Regions from separate parts of the Homo sapiens genome. Here region 1 is linked to region 2. The links come from fine-mapping of genetic effects on gene expression. Tissue or cell type: monocytes. Region 2 holds a variant in brackets; the other region holds the start of a gene. All regions are shown on one strand. Distances are from middle to middle.

Region 1 (8,108 bases), 130 kb before region 2:
CTATAATTGTGTTTCTGATGTTACTGTGTCACAATATTCTATGCGATGTAACCCATGTCCTCCTCCCCCTCACAAATCTCCTATAAATATTCATTGCTTTCAAAAACTTTAATACTACTGGTCCGAATTGGTCAATAATGACAAATGCATGGTTTCTAAATTACTGTATATTGTTCTACAGAGATTACTAGAGTATATATAGCAAGGGGATGTTAAGCAGTAAGAAAACACAGTTCACATTGTATTTGGATTAGATTGGCTTGGATAGAAGTGAAACAAACAATGTTAGCAAAGAAGTCTAAAGACATGTGGCCCACTGTAATTGTACAGAATCAAAAACCTGAATAGTACTCATTAAAATGAGAGAGCTCAATTGTTATAAAAGAAATGCTGCTAACAGAGAACTGTAAATGTTTAGACACCCCTGTGAATCACTAAATAATAATGTAAAAAGGATAAAAATGAGAATTAAGTTATAAGCCTGAGAGCATTACTGCTACACATCTAAAAAAATAATTCTGATCCTCTCTTTTTTTTTTCCAAGAGAAAATGGGCGACTATAAAAGACCTTGCAATAAGAGAAATAAAAATACCATGTCTTCACAGCAGTGTACATAAATAAACCATAAAAATGTGCAGATAATAATATATTTAGCTGCCCAAACATGGGCATTTAATTTCTAGAAATGATATATAACAATGTAACAATTAGATACTCAGCCATGAATGTGTATGGCACAGTCTTCATCATTAGCAAACTTTGTGTATAAAATATTATTTATTATTTATTATAATACTGCTTTCAGAGGCAATGATCATACCTTACAGCTTTTAACACAAATATGATGCAAAAGGATTAAAAGTATATCATAAACAAACAATAAATTCTTTCTAAATACACTTAAATTCATATTTTACATGAAAAATATAAACTTCCTACATTTGTGACTACTGACTTTTAAAAAGACCTAGAAAACTATTGTTACGGGCAATGTTAAATGACATAATGCTTATGTAATGGAAAGTGTGGATTTTCCTCTAAATAAACTATAATCCCTTAACTTCATTACTAGGGAAAATATTGTTAAAGAGAAGGAAAGCAAGGGAATTCTGCTAGGTTGCATAAATATTGACATAATCTTCACTCTTTCTTCCCCAAACTGGTAATAGACATAGTTTATTCCACCCAACAAAATGCTCTTATAAGACCAAAACTACCCTTATTAACAACTTCTCTGCAGTCACGATGAAAAGAAACACTACTTGTCTGAAAAATACCGACAGCGCTGCCCTTTTCAGATTAGGGTGTGCCTACGAATCTTTTGGGAAGTCTTCCATTAAGGATTCCTGGGTTTGCTGAAACTGAAGTCTACTAGGATCAGAGAAATTAACACAGGTCTAATATGGTGCAAGGAACGAGTGAGAGACACCTGAGGTTATAAATAGCAAAGCATGCTGCGGGGTGGGGAAGACCATTCTGAAGTGCAATGTTCAAGACGCTGGCTTAATATATGACTAAGTGTCAGAAGTCAGGTTTTCTGAGAATTACTTTCCAGATAAACAACTTTATAGCACTGCACTTAATCTTACTTACTAGAGACATCTCATTTATCACTGAATTACAAGTAACTTTAATCCTATTGATATTGCCATAAAGCCCGTTGAAAATCCATCCTGGCACTTTTAAAGGGTTTGGGGCCCTGTTACATGGGGATCCTCTTGCAAAGGTCTCAGCCAGAAATTACACCCCGAGGGTGTCTGTATCCCCTGGCCTCTTTGTCAACAATCAAGGAGAAGAGGAGGGGCAAAAATGATCTCTGCATCTGCCAGCACTTTCTTCGGCCCCTTTCCTATAGGGTCGGGTTCTCCCACTTCAGTCAAACTAACTTTGTGTGTCTCTTTCCTCCTCCCACACTGGGTAACCAGCTGCTTTTCACTTCATCGACAAAACTGGACACGGATCAATTTCAACTGACCTTTGCCGAAAGGTGGCGCTGTTGAGGTAAAAACCAACTCGCTCCAACAATAGTTTCCACTCTTCGATCCTTTTGCAGGCTTTTCAGAATTTTTTTTTTTTTTTAATGCACCCTCCTAGCGTCTCCCCCTTCTCATAAAGTAAAATAAATACGATTAAAAACACCAAATGCATTTCATTAATTGAAGGAATCAACAGTCCCAACTTCTAAGCAGACGGGCTGGTCTTCCAAAGGCTGGGTCGGTTTCAGGAGCTTTCTCTCCAAATAAATCTCTGCTTCTTCGACTTGCCTATCGCTTTAAAATCTTAGAAACAGAGTTAGTTGTTGGTTTCCTTCTTTTTTCTTTTTCTTTTTTATTTCTTTTTTGCATAAACTTTTAGAGAATCAATCTAGAAATTTGAACTACTTATTAGCATTTGCAACTGGGGGTGGGGGGAGCAGCCTCCCCCACCCCACCCCCCACTCTGCGTTTCCGGACTAGTTCCAGAAACCGCGGTTTAAAATTTAACCCTTCGAGGGTAGCTGGTGAGGGCTGGGGTATTGTTTTTCCCCCTTGCTCCCTGCCACGATCAAGTCCGAAATAATTAAAGGAAACGTAAAAGTGCAAAGGGCGCGCCTGACCCTGATAAACAGAGGTCAGATTTCGTAAGGGGACGGGTGAGTGTGAGTGTGTGTGTGTTTGTGTGTGTGTGTGTAAGAGAGAGAGAGAGCGAGCGCGCAATATGAGTCTCAAAGGCCAAACTCCGGCCAGTCAGGAGCCGGAAGGCTGAGCCCGGCTGACCTGACTTTGAGCTTCCCCGGAGTTATCTCGCATAGGCGCTCGCTCTGTCCAAGGGCACGCGACGCCAGCGGGCAGCCGGTCTCCGTGAAGAATGGCCTCTAAACAACTTATTTTACCTCGTTGTAAAGAGAGGGATAAAATGGGCTTTCCCTCTCCACGGATGCCCAGCCTTCTGGGCAGGCGCATGGCCGGGCGGCGCCCAGCCCGCAGCCCCGATCCGGACACCCCACTGCATCCCTCCCTTCCCGGTCCCTTCCCCGCACGGGCGCCCGAGAGACGGACAAAGAGTTGGGGCCAAGTTTGAGCGCCGGGCACGGCCAGGCTCAGGGAAGGAAGGTCCCCGGCAGACACCTGGGTACCAGAGTTGGTGCGAGGAGGAAAAGCTGGGAGGCGAATTCACAATCCTGGGGGTGGAGGGCAGGCAGGGGAGGGGAATCAGGCCAATCCCAGCCGAGTGAGCCCCCAGCGAGCTGGGGCTCCGGATGGGAGGCCTGTCTCGCGCTCCAAAGAAAAGCAAACCGCCCTCCCAGGTCCGCCCGGATTGCCGAAGCCCCTCTGGAAAAACTCCTTCCCCTCTTACACCAAACTTTGCGCCGGGCCTCGTTCCCTCCCGGGTAGGCAGCGGCGCAGGAAGGGTTAAGCCAGCCCGTCCCAGCTGACAGTCAGCTGATTGGGCCCTGATTGACAGCTCCGAAAAGTTTCCTTGTTTCTATACTATTATGCTAATCGCGGCCGCTCTCGCCGCCTCCCATTGGCCCGGAGTGCCAGTCAATTTCTCATTTGGACCTGACGTCACGAGTGCTATAAAACTCAGCAATTGCTTTAAACTCTTCTTGCTGGATCAGAGGCTTTAAAATCTTTTTTCATCTTCTAGCTGTAGCTCGGGCTGCTTGTCGGCTTGGCCTCCCCCTCCCCCCTTTGCTCTCTGCCTCGTCTTTCCCCAGGACTTCGCTATTTTGCTTTTTTAAAAAAAGGCAAGAAAGAACTAAACTCCCCCCTCCCTCTCCTCCAGTCGGGCTGCACCTCTGCCTTGCACTTTGCACAGAGGTAGAGAGCGCGCGAGGGAGAGAGAGGAAAGAAAAAAAATAATAAAGAGAGCCAAGCAGAAGAGGAGGCGAGAAGCATGAAGTGTTAACTCCCCCGTGCCAAGGCCCGCGCCGCCCGGACAGACGCCCGCCGCGCCTCCAGCCCCGAGCGGACGCCGCGCGCGCCCTGCCTGCAGCCCGGGCCGGCGAGGCGAGCCCTTCCTTATGCAAAGCGCGCAGCGGAGCGGCGAGCGGGGGACGCCGCGCACCGGGCCGGGCTCCTCCAGCTTCGCCGCCGCAGCCACCACCGCCGCCACCGCAGCTCGCGGAGGATCTTCCCGAGCCTGAAGCCGCCGGCTCGGCGCGCAAGGAGGCGAGCGAGCAAGGAGGGGCCGGGGCGAGCGAGGGAGCACATTGGCGTGAGCAGGGGGGAGGGAGGGCGGGCGCGGGGGGCGCGGGCAGGGCGGGGGGGTGTGTGTGTGAGCGCGCTCGGAGGTTTCGGGCCAGCCACCGCCGCGCAAGCTAGAAGCGCCCCAGCCCGGCAAGCTGGCTCACCCGCTGGCCACCCAGCACAGCCCGCTGGCCCCTCTCCTGCAGCCCATCTGGCGGAGCGGCGGCGGCGGCGGCGGCGGCGGCAGGAGAATGGCATCAGAACTGGCAATGAGCAACTCCGACCTGCCCACCAGTCCCCTGGCCATGGAATATGTTAATGACTTCGATCTGATGAAGTTTGAAGTGAAAAAGGAACCGGTGGAGACCGACCGCATCATCAGCCAGTGCGGCCGTCTCATCGCCGGGGGCTCGCTGTCCTCCACCCCCATGAGCACGCCGTGCAGCTCGGTGCCCCCTTCCCCCAGCTTCTCGGCGCCCAGCCCGGGCTCGGGCAGCGAGCAGAAGGCGCACCTGGAAGACTACTACTGGATGACCGGCTACCCGCAGCAGCTGAACCCCGAGGCGCTGGGCTTCAGCCCCGAGGACGCGGTCGAGGCGCTCATCAGCAACAGCCACCAGCTCCAGGGCGGCTTCGATGGCTACGCGCGCGGGGCGCAGCAGCTGGCCGCGGCGGCCGGGGCCGGTGCCGGCGCCTCCTTGGGCGGCAGCGGCGAGGAGATGGGCCCCGCCGCCGCCGTGGTGTCCGCCGTGATCGCCGCGGCCGCCGCGCAGAGCGGCGCGGGCCCGCACTACCACCACCACCACCACCACGCCGCCGGCCACCACCACCACCCGACGGCCGGCGCGCCCGGCGCCGCGGGCAGCGCGGCCGCCTCGGCCGGTGGCGCTGGGGGCGCGGGCGGCGGTGGCCCGGCCAGCGCTGGGGGCGGCGGCGGCGGCGGCGGCGGCGGAGGCGGCGGGGGCGCGGCGGGGGCGGGGGGCGCCCTGCACCCGCACCACGCCGCCGGCGGCCTGCACTTCGACGACCGCTTCTCCGACGAGCAGCTGGTGACCATGTCTGTGCGCGAGCTGAACCGGCAGCTGCGCGGGGTCAGCAAGGAGGAGGTGATCCGGCTGAAGCAGAAGAGGCGGACCCTGAAAAACCGCGGCTATGCCCAGTCCTGCCGCTTCAAGAGGGTGCAGCAGAGACACGTCCTGGAGTCGGAGAAGAACCAGCTGCTGCAGCAAGTCGACCACCTCAAGCAGGAGATCTCCAGGCTGGTGCGCGAGAGGGACGCGTACAAGGAGAAATACGAGAAGTTGGTGAGCAGCGGCTTCCGAGAAAACGGCTCGAGCAGCGACAACCCGTCCTCTCCCGAGTTTTTCATGTGAGTCTGACACGCGATTCCAGCTAGCCACCCTGATAAGTGCTCCGCGGGGGTCCGGCTCGGGTGTGGGCTTGCTAGTTCTAGAGCCATGCTCGCCACCACCTCACCACCCCCACCCCCACCGAGTTTGGCCCCCTTGGCCCCCTACACACACACAAACCCGCACGCACACACCACACACACACACACACACACACACACACCCCACACCCTGCTCGAGTTTGTGGTGGTGGTGGCTGTTTTAAACTGGGGAGGGAATGGGTGTCTGGCTCATGGATTGCCAATCTGAAATTCTCCATAACTTGCTAGCTTGTTTTTTTTTTTTTTTTACACCCCCCCGCCCCACCCCCGGACTTGCACAATGTTCAATGATCTCAGCAGAGTTCTTCATGTGAAACGTTGATCACCTTTGAAGCCTGCATCATTCACATATTTTTTCTTCTTCTTCCCCTTCAGTTCATGAACTGGTGTTCATTTTCTGTGTGTGTGTGTGTTTTATTTTGTTTGGATTTTTTTTTTTAATTTTACTTTTAGAGCTTGCTGTGTTGCCCACCTTTTTTCCAACCTCCACCCTCACTCCTTCTCAACCCATCTCTTCCGAGATGAAAGAAAAAAAAAAGCAAAGTTTTTTTTTCTTCTCCTGAGTTCTTCATGTGAGATTGAGCTTGCAAAGGAAAAAAAAATGTGAAATGTTATAGACTTGCAGCGTGCCGAGTTCCATCGGGTTTTTTTTTTAGCATTGTTATGCTAAAATAGAGAAAAAAATCCTCATGAACCTTCCACAATCAAGCCTGCATCAACCTTCTGGGTGTGACTTGTGAGTTTTGGCCTTGTGATGCCAAATCTGAGAGTTTAGTCTGCCATTAAAAAAACTCATTCTCATCTCATGCATTATTATGCTTGCTACTTTGTCTTAGCAACAATGAACTATAACTGTTTCAAAGACTTTATGGAAAAGAGACATTATATTAATAAAAAAAAAAAGCCTGCATGCTGGACATGTATGGTATAATTATTTTTTCCTTTTTTTTTCCTTTTGGCTTGGAAATGGACGTTCGAAGACTTATAGCATGGCATTCATACTTTTGTTTTATTGCCTCATGACTTTTTTGAGTTTAGAACAAAACAGTGCAACCGTAGAGCCTTCTTCCCATGAAATTTTGCATCTGCTCCAAAACTGCTTTGAGTTACTCAGAACTTCAACCTCCCAATGCACTGAAGGCATTCCTTGTCAAAGATACCAGAATGGGTTACACATTTAACCTGGCAAACATTGAAGAACTCTTAATGTTTTCTTTTTAATAAGAATGACGCCCCACTTTGGGGACTAAAATTGTGCTATTGCCGAGAAGCAGTCTAAAATTTATTTTTTAAAAAGAGAAACTGCCCCATTATTTTTGGTTTGTTTTATTTTTATTTTATATTTTTTGGCTTTTGGTCATTGTCAAATGTGGAATGCTCTGGGTTTCTAGTATATAATTTAATTCTAGTTTTTATAATCTGTTAGCCCAGTTAAAATGTATGCTACAGATAAAGGAATGTTATAGATAAATTTGAAAGAGTTAGGTCTGTTTAGCTGTAGATTTTTTAAACGATTGATGCACTAAATTGTTTACTATTGTGATGTTAAGGGGGGTAGAGTTTGCAAGGGGACTGTTTAAAAAAAGTAGCTTATACAGCATGTGCTTGCAACTTAAATATAAGTTGGGTATGTGTAGTCTTTGCTATACCACTGACTGTATTGAAAACCAAAGTATTAAGAGGGGAAACGCCCCTGTTTATATCTGTAGGGGTATTTTACATTCAAAAATGTATGTTTTTTTTTCTTTTCAAAATTAAAGTATTTGGGACTGAATTGCACTAAGATATAACCTGCAAGCATATAATACAAAAAAAAATTGCAAAACTGTTTAGAACGCTAATAAAATTTATGCAGTTATAAAAATGGCATTACTGCACAGTTTTAAGATGATGCAGATTTTTTTACAGTTGTATTGTGGTGCAGAACTGGATTTTCTGTAACTTAAAAAAAAATCCACAGTTTTAAAGGCAATAATCAGTAAATGTTATTTTCAGGGACTGACATCCTGTCTTTAAAAAGAAATGAAAAGTAAATCTTACCACAATAAATATAAAAAAATCTTGTCAGTTACTTTTCTTTTACATATTTTGCTGTGCAAAATTGTTTTATATCTTGAGTTACTAACTAACCACGCGTGTTGTTCCTATGTGCTTTTCTTTCATTTTCAATTCTGGTTATATCAAGAAAAGAATAATCTACAATAATAAACGGCATTTTTTTTTGATTCTGTACTCAGTTTCTTAGTGTACAGTTTAACTGGGCCCAACAACCTCGTTAAAAGTGTAAAATGCATCCTTTTCTCCAGTGGAAGGATTCCTGGAGGAATAGGGAGACAGTAATTCAGGGTGAAATTATAGGCTGTTTTTTGAAGTGAGGAGGCTGGCCCCATATACTGATTAGCAATATTTAATATAGATGTAAATTATGACCTCATTTTTTTCTCCCCAAAGTTTTCAGTTTTCAAATGAGTTGAGCCATAATTGC
Region 2 (8,108 bases):
GTTTCCATGAGTCAGGGGCCTGGGCATGACTTACCTGTGTTCCCTGGCCAGGGACTCACAAGGTTGCAATCAAGAGGGTCTCATCTCTGGCTCCAGGTCTTTTTCTAAGCTCACGTGGTTATTGACAGAACTCCCTTCCAGCTAAAAACTCATGGAGGCTTAATTCTTTGAGGCCAGCAAGAGAAAGTTTCTGCTGCTTTGAGTCTCAGAGTTCGGGGAAGCTTAAATTCTCTTCCAAGCCATCACCTGGTTAGGTCAGGCCCACCTAGGATCATCTCCCTTTTGATTAAGTCGAACTGATTAGGGACCTTGATTACATTTGAAAAATATCCCTGCACCTTTTCTATCTAATGTAACATAATCACAGGAATAATATCCCATCATATTCACAGGCCCTGACCCCACTCAAGGGAAAGAGATTTTACAAGAGCACAGGCCACACAGGGGTCGTCTTAGGATTCTGCCTGCAACAAGTGTAACAAACCCTCATGAACTCATCACACAGCTTTAAGAATGGTTGTCATTCTGCCATTCTTGCTTCACTCCACACCCCCACTTAATCCTTATTCATTTTTACAGATTTTAAGGTGAAATTTATATACATTGAAATGCACAAATCTTAGCTGCCCAATTTTGACAAAGAAATGAGCCCCACATAACCCACACCCTTATGAATAGTTAAAATATTTCCATCTCCATCTCCCCCAGGAAATTCTTTCATGTTCCTTCCTACTCAGAGCCATATAGACAGACAGACAGATGGATAGATAGATCGATAGACAGGCAGAAAATATACACAGACATTTGAAAATATATAAAGTGTACATGGATATTTGAAAGAGTGAAGTGCATTGTTCGTTTAAGATCCTGGACATAGACCTGGATTTGCCTCCCAAATCTACTTCTTTCTTGCATACACACACACACACACACACATATATATACATACATATATATATATATCTCCATATATATATGCACATATATATGTGGGTCTGAGAATTAATTAATAATATATATATTTTTTCTTATTTTATTTTAAAGCTAATTCTAGGAAGTACCTAGGACCATACCTGGCAGAGTGTTAGCAACGGATAATTGTTAATCTTCCTTCCAATTCTTCTAAACTCGAGTTTGTGTTTATTATGAGATGCCACAAAGGCAAAGAGAAGGGACACTGCTGAGCTGCACAAGCCCTGGAGAGGAGGCTTCCAGAAGCGCTTTGGTCGGGATGCCTGGTGAGGCCAAGGCCATGTGTGCACTGCCTTACTGTTAGCGATAGACAGAATGAACATCTTCTGCTACCAGCACAGTGTCTACAAAGCATGGGAGGTTCTTTGATCTCTGTTGGATTAATGCACACATTTCTAGTTGCTAGGATGTGTATTTGAATTAGATGATGGTGAATCACACTCCTTTGCTTTTAGATCTCTCCTGATACAGTGATGGCAACAGGCTCTAGACATGGCTCAGAATGGGGGTGAGGAGGAATCTTATCCTTGATTTCCTGACATGGGATGGTCCCTTCTTGCCTCCAAAAAGTAGGTCTGGGTCATGCTCATGCTCAAGGATTTCCTCCTTCACCAGCAAAAAATAAATATTCAACAAGAAGGAGTGTGGCATCCAGATGGGACAAAAAAAGAAAAAGAATGAGGTATCAGACAGACAGATTCCAACGCTGTGATTTGAACCCATTTATATTAACACCTGAGGCTCTCCCTGCACGTCTCCTAGCCCAACCTTATCAGCCTTTTATGGGGATCGAAAGCAAGCATGCTGGGCTTGGCAGAAAGCACCTGAGCCCACACCATTCCCTTCCCCTTGCCTCGGATTTTAACATCCACCCTTGCTGGCTTGTCTGTCTGCCCAGCCAGCCAGGCACTTGCTCAGCCATCTCTCACCATTTAATACATATGAGGGATAGAAATATGTGGATTCATCAAGCATGATTTCTGCCCTTTGCAGGGGAGATAGGCATTTTTATAAATGGTAATAGTACAACCAGGCAAGGATAATTTCCCCCAAAGAGGCGAATACAAAATGCGTTAAGGTTTCCAGCAGGATCATTTTCTTCTATGCCATGTAGAGAGATTTGGAGGAGGGGGTAGCCCTTGAGCTTTAATTTAAAGACCACAAATAATTCTAGGTTATCCCTCCACCTCCTTCTATTCCTTCTCCTATTTCCTCATCATTTCTTCCTCTCCCCTGCCTCTTTCCTTCTAGGAGATTATCCATCTTCCTCTCTCCTGTGCCCTCTGTCTTTTGCCCTCTCCCTTTCCTTATAGACATAAGAATGCTCATCCCTACTAAATAAACTACCTGCCGTAATTCCTCCCCACTCGACCACTTTATAAACCATAACCCCCAATCCCTTGAGCCTGGAGACGTTATGAGAAGAATCCCACAAAGGGCAACACTGATGATTTCTCATTTAATTTTTCCAAAGATTTGATTTTTTTTAAATTTAAAACTCAAAAGTGCCATTAAAGCCCTCACCCAGATCAGCTGTATCTTTAAGTGTAAAATCCATTTCAGTCGGCAGAGCTTGCGATACGGTTAAGTACTTATTTTTATTGTCTGTCTGGGCATGGTTTTTAACTGCAGGTGGAGAATAAATCAATAATGTCATAAAGACATGCTCACCCCGTGCCCTTTCCACAGCCTGCTCTGGAGTGCTGAACTCAGGAGAGAGGCTGAGGTCTGCATGCCCTGAATCGTGCAGTGGGTAGGAGGCTGGTAGATGTGTCCTCTCTCCATGCCATTTTATCTGACATTGTTTGGCAAAGGCTGTGCATTTTTTATGGTTTTCCCAACTGTTTGCAAAGGGCAACATCCGCTTGCTGTTTGCACCCATGAGAGGCTATGATTGTGTCCTTCCTGCTGCAAGAGGCCCAGAGGTAGCCCCACTCCTCTAGGACGGACCCTGAATTGTTAAAAGGAGTGAAGTTCCTGGAACAATCATTGTTATATTAAATGCCTGGGTTGCCACCGTGGATTTTGGCATCTTGAGAGAGTTCCTCCATTCATTCCTTTTGTGGGCATGCAGACATCTGGGACCTGCAAAGAGAAATGAGGACTCCCTCCCCCTCCACAGAGGATATGACTGCCTGTGGCTGTTCCTCCCACGATGTGTCTGGACTATCCCTACGCTGAGCCAGGGGTGTGAACGACCAGATGGCCATCGACACCATCAAAAAAGGCATCCCCAGTTCCATGTCCCCTCACTCTACTTTTCTTCGTTCCCCTTATCACAACCTGTAGTCTGTACATTTATTTGCTTAGCGTCAGTCCTTCCCACCAGAATGTAAGCTCCATAGGACAGAATTGTGTTGTGTTCACACTGGCTGGTGCGCCATATGGTACCGGGCCTCGGTACACACCCATTCAATCACTGACTACCCAAATCTCTCCAGGACAGGAACTCATGCTCTTTTACTGCTTGTTCCCTCTCCATGGCAGGGTTTTTTCTTTCTTTCTCTCTTTCTTTCCTTCTTTTCTAACATTATTGACGTACAATTTATATACATTACTATAAAATTCACCAATTTAAAGTGTGACATTTAATGGGCTTTTGTATATGTATAGAGTTGTACAACCATCGCCCTACTCTAATTTTAGAACATTTCTACACCCTAGAAGGAAACTCCA[T/C]ACCCATGAACAGTCACTCCCCATTTCTTCTCTGCCTCCAAGCCCTAGGCAACCACTCATCTACTTCCTGTCTGTATAAATTTGCCTACAGTGGACATTTTAAAGAGATGGAATCATACAACATTGCTCTTTGTACCTGGCTTCTTTCACTTAGTATATCTTTTCGAGGTTTCCCCCTGATGTGGCATGCATTTGTATTTTGTTCTTTTGATTATGGAATAGTATTCCATTGTATGGATAGAACATATCTTGGGTATCCCTTTAGTAGTTGATGGACATTCGGGATATTTCTACTTTTTGATTATTATGAATAATGTCTTTATGAGTGAATTCACATAGAAGTCTTTATGTAGACACGAATCTTCATTTCTCTTGGGTAGATTCCCAGGAGTGGAATTGCTGGGTCTCTAATGGCATTTTGTCAATTTAGCCCTGTAATATATTTATTCTTCTCTCCATTATCAGCCTTTGAGCTGCTTGAGGGTTGACTGGGGATTTGAGTCATCTAAATATTTCCATAAAATCTGATCTAGATGCTTACATATGGTGGCTCCTTGTAAACCATTCCAGAGCAAAGGAAAGAGAGGGAAAGAGAGGTCAGGCTGAAGCCAAGGCCTGCAGCATTAGGGGAGAAGCAAGGAAAAATTGCTGTGGAGTCTTTCCTAACTAGAAAGCTACACTTTGTCTTACGCATGAGGGAGAAAGCATGTCTGCACTTAGCAAGGCCATTTTCCCCAAAGTTGTCAGTGATGTCACTCATATCACCTGGTAAAAGTTTTTTCTTCTAACAATAATTGTTATTGTACCCATTATGGAAAATTTGATAATACAGATCAATAAAGAAGAAATTGGATTACCTATATAGTGACATTCCTGACATGACCACTTATCAGCTGTCCTAGGCAAACACTATGACATCAGCAAACCTCAGGGCTTTTTTACTTGTTTGGGTTTTTTTGTTTGTTTGCATTTCTGAGACAGTGCCTTGCCGTGATGCCCAGGCTGGAGTGCAATGGCATGATCTCAGCTCACTGCAACCTCTGCTTCCAGGGCTGGAGCCATCCTCCTACCTCAGCCGCCCTAGCACCTGGAACTACAGGTGTGCACCACCATGCCCAACTAATTTTTGTGGGTTTTTTTCTAGAGACAGGAGTTAGCCTGTCTTTACAAAAGACATGTTGCCCAGCCTGAGCTGTAACTCCTGGGCTCAAGCAATCTGCCTGCCTTGGCCTCCCAAAGTGCTGAGATTATAGGCATGAGCCATTGTGCTCTGCCTAAACCTTAGTTTTTTACATCTGGAAAGTGTGAAAAAATAACAGGGAGTGCTGAGAATTTGGAGTTGAGGGTTCTGTCGTGCTCTTCATGACTGCTTAGATGTTTTGTATCTGTAAGATAAGGAAAAAAGTAAGCAGATTAATGGGTAGAGAAGCTCTGCTGTAAAGCACAGGAACTTGCTCCTTCTGCCTCTCCATCTTACCCTGCAGGTATGCCTCCTTCCTCCACAGGCGTGGGAGTGGTCAGCAGGAAGGCAGGCCAGGTAGGAAAGTCCAGCAAATGTGTACCTAAAAGATGGCATGGACCTGGTAATTAAACACACATCTGCAAGAATGATGGTGAAGACTAGGGTGGGAGGTGATGTGATATGAACATGACGATGATGGTAGCTTTCATTGCTACCATCTTCCATGCATTATATAAGATACTTTATTCATTCTTTTCCAGTTAACTGAATAATTTGAGTGCCTCTCACTGCATCAGGTTCTTGGGATACAGAGATGGATGAGAAATGGTGACAAATAGCAGTAAAACACACTAGTTCTGGCGTCAGCTAAACTTCAGTCATCCATTCATCCGTTCACCCATCCATCCACCCATTCAACAGATTCAAGAGGGAGTGCCTTCTATGGCCCCAGCATCGTGTTGGACAATGGAATCCTGGCTGTCTTTCCTGTAGTACATGAAGCCAATTCTTAAACTCTTTAAGTCTCAGTTTTCTCAGCTGATAAATGGGAAGAATAATACCCAGTAAGTTCCACTGGGTTGCTATGAGAACTAAATAAAATATGCTTAGCACAGTACCTGAATGAGTTGGCTGCTGTTGTTTAGTAATAGTATTTGTATTTGCATTGGAAGATATGGACCTGCCCTCCAGGAACTTGTGGTGGGGGCTGGTACATGGCCTTTTGCTTCCCTAGCTGTTTCTCTAGCCCACAGTGGAGTGGGCAGCTCTTTCTGCCATGCCCTAGTTGCCATCCTGGTCCCCTGGGCCCTCTGAGCTGAGCCCCTGGGGGGGCTCAGTAACATGACCTGCCCTGGACCCATCCCCTAACTTTGCCAGGAAAGGGCGGATGGGCGTCCTCATTGGCAAGGATCCGAGCAGGGCAAGTGTTGGGGTTCAGAGGACAAAGGAAAGGGACATTTCAAGGAAGTTCCCACTTCCTCAGAACCAGAGTTCCTATCTCCGCCGCTCATGTGATCTATTGGGACATTTTTCATGTTCCAAATGTAAGCACATCCCGGAAAAATGCCAGTGTTGGTCTTGTGATGAAATGTCTTTCTTTACAAATGCCTGACATGGCCTGAGAGCCTGGAGGATGGCGAGCAGAAGGAGCAGACCGCACGTTTCTGAGCGAGGTAGAGATTATATGTTCCCATCCTTATTCACTTTTCTAAACTTAAGATAACTTATGTCTGTAAAATGGGAACAAAATGTGCCCTGTCATGAGGTGGTTTATGAGTTTAAATGAGACCCTGTAGGCCAGGCGCGGTGGCTCAAGCCTGTAATCTCAGCACTTTGGGAGGCCGAGGTGGGTGGATCACGAGGTCAGGAGTTCGAGACCAGCCTGACCAACACTGTGAAACCCTGTCTCTACTAAAAATACAAAAATTAGCCAGACAAGGTGGCGGGCACCTGTAATCCCAGCTACTCAGGAGGCTGAGGCAGGAGAATCACTTGAACCTGGGAGGTAGAGGTTGCAGTGAGCTGAGATCACGCCACTGCACTCCAGTCTGGGCAACAGAGTGAGACTCTGTCTCAGAAAAAAATAAAAATTAAAAATAAATAAATAAATAAATGAGACCTTGCATATAAAAATACCTAGCTCTGCAATGACCATTTTTTCAGTTGTAATTTGTTTCATCTTCATACTGTTCAATGAAGTAGACAATTTTATCATCTCTACTTATAGAGGAGGAAATTGAGATCAGAGAGGTAACTACTTGCTTAAAGCCACCCAGGTAATAGGCGGGAGAGTTGGTCATCAAACAAGATCTGTCTGAATCCCGAGCTTATGTTTTTAACCACTCACCATTTATTTAGTGTAAGAATCAGCAAACTTTTTCTGTAAAGGGACAGATATTAAATATTTTTGGCTTTGTGGTCCAGACTGTCTGTTGCAACCGCTCAACTCTGCCATTGAGGAATGAAAGCAGCCATATACAATGTAAATGAACGGTCATGGCTATGTTCCAATAAAACTGTATTTACAAAAATGGGCAGTGGGCTGGATGGGGCTTGCAGGGCTCCAGTTTGCAACCTCTGCTTTAGAGGAACGCATGAGTTGGGCCCTTGGGCACTTGGGACACATGATTGGGTGTGGGGTGGCTAAGGAATAAATGCCTGCTAGCATAAGGACAGCTTGTAGCCTCTACAAAACATCTGCTTGTCAAACAACATCACTCTTTATATGGAAGATGGCTATTAAAAAGGAAGTGTGAGCCCACGATTGATTGAAGGCAATCAAAGCAAGCAGGAGGATTAAGTACAAGAGGTCGCCATTAGAAGGGTCTCCTGCATGTAGCCTTCCTGACCAAGGACAAGAATAGCCCGGGTGATTTATAATGCTCCATGGAGCTTCTCTGGCTTCTCTGGTTTCTTTTCTGCCCCCTGGATTATCTTATCCTCAGCCACCCCCTTCCTCTACCCCAAAGGATTTGAAACTTCCCAGGCATGGGGGCCACGTTACCACTGTCTGCACCATCCTGGCAGACTCTGACTGCCCCTCAATGCCAACACCCCTGGCCTGCCCAGGGTGAGCTGGGGCTGAGCAGGTTAAGGCCAGGTTTGCCCTGAGGCTGCAGCATGCTGGGGCTGCTCCAGACCTGTTTCTGGGACAGCAGGTGCAGTCGTTCACTGACACCAAAATACATTCTTGAGGCAAGAGCAGACGGGCCAAACAAGAGCAGGTCTCCCACCCTCCACGGACTTGGCTCCCTCCAGAGGACACATTTGCCATGAGGACACCCCAAGTGCTAATCCTCTCACCCAGGAGATCTAAGCAGAGTCAGCATTTTAGTTGAGGGCTGGACACAGGCAGGGGCATCCCCCCAGTGCCGTCTGGCCGGCCCAGGGCAGCAGTAAATCACACAGGGGAAGGCACTTCTTGGACGCCTGGGCTGCTGGGGACTCCGTGGGTGTCATAAATCAGGAGCTCACCCCATTTCACCTGTACCTTCTCGTG

Evidence for each region. PIP is the estimated chance that this variant, and not a neighbour inherited with it, causes the effect.
Region 1: it holds the start of MAF, and the variant in region 2 is fine-mapped to the expression of MAF in monocytes (TOPMed, PIP above 0.99). The same link has a PIP of 0.9 or more in whole blood.

The regions. Positions count from the first base shown.
Region 1 is chr16:79,596,219-79,604,326 of GRCh38, reverse strand. MAF (MAF bZIP transcription factor) reads left to right here and starts at 3,590. Exons shown (of 2, transcript NM_005360.5): 1 at 3,590-5,542. The coding sequence starts at 4,425. It overlaps LOC101928230 (a long non-coding RNA gene), which reads right to left and starts at 3,440. Exons shown (of 3, transcript NR_188556.1): 1 at 3,338-3,440; 2 at 1,977-2,280. RefSeq lists an enhancer at 3,381-3,675.
Region 2 is chr16:79,468,191-79,476,298 of GRCh38, reverse strand. It overlaps a transcript of MAF not described here. Among named protein-coding and RNA genes, the nearest start is that of MAF, 130 kb to the left of the region's middle. The variant T/C (reference allele first, on the strand shown) is at 3,649.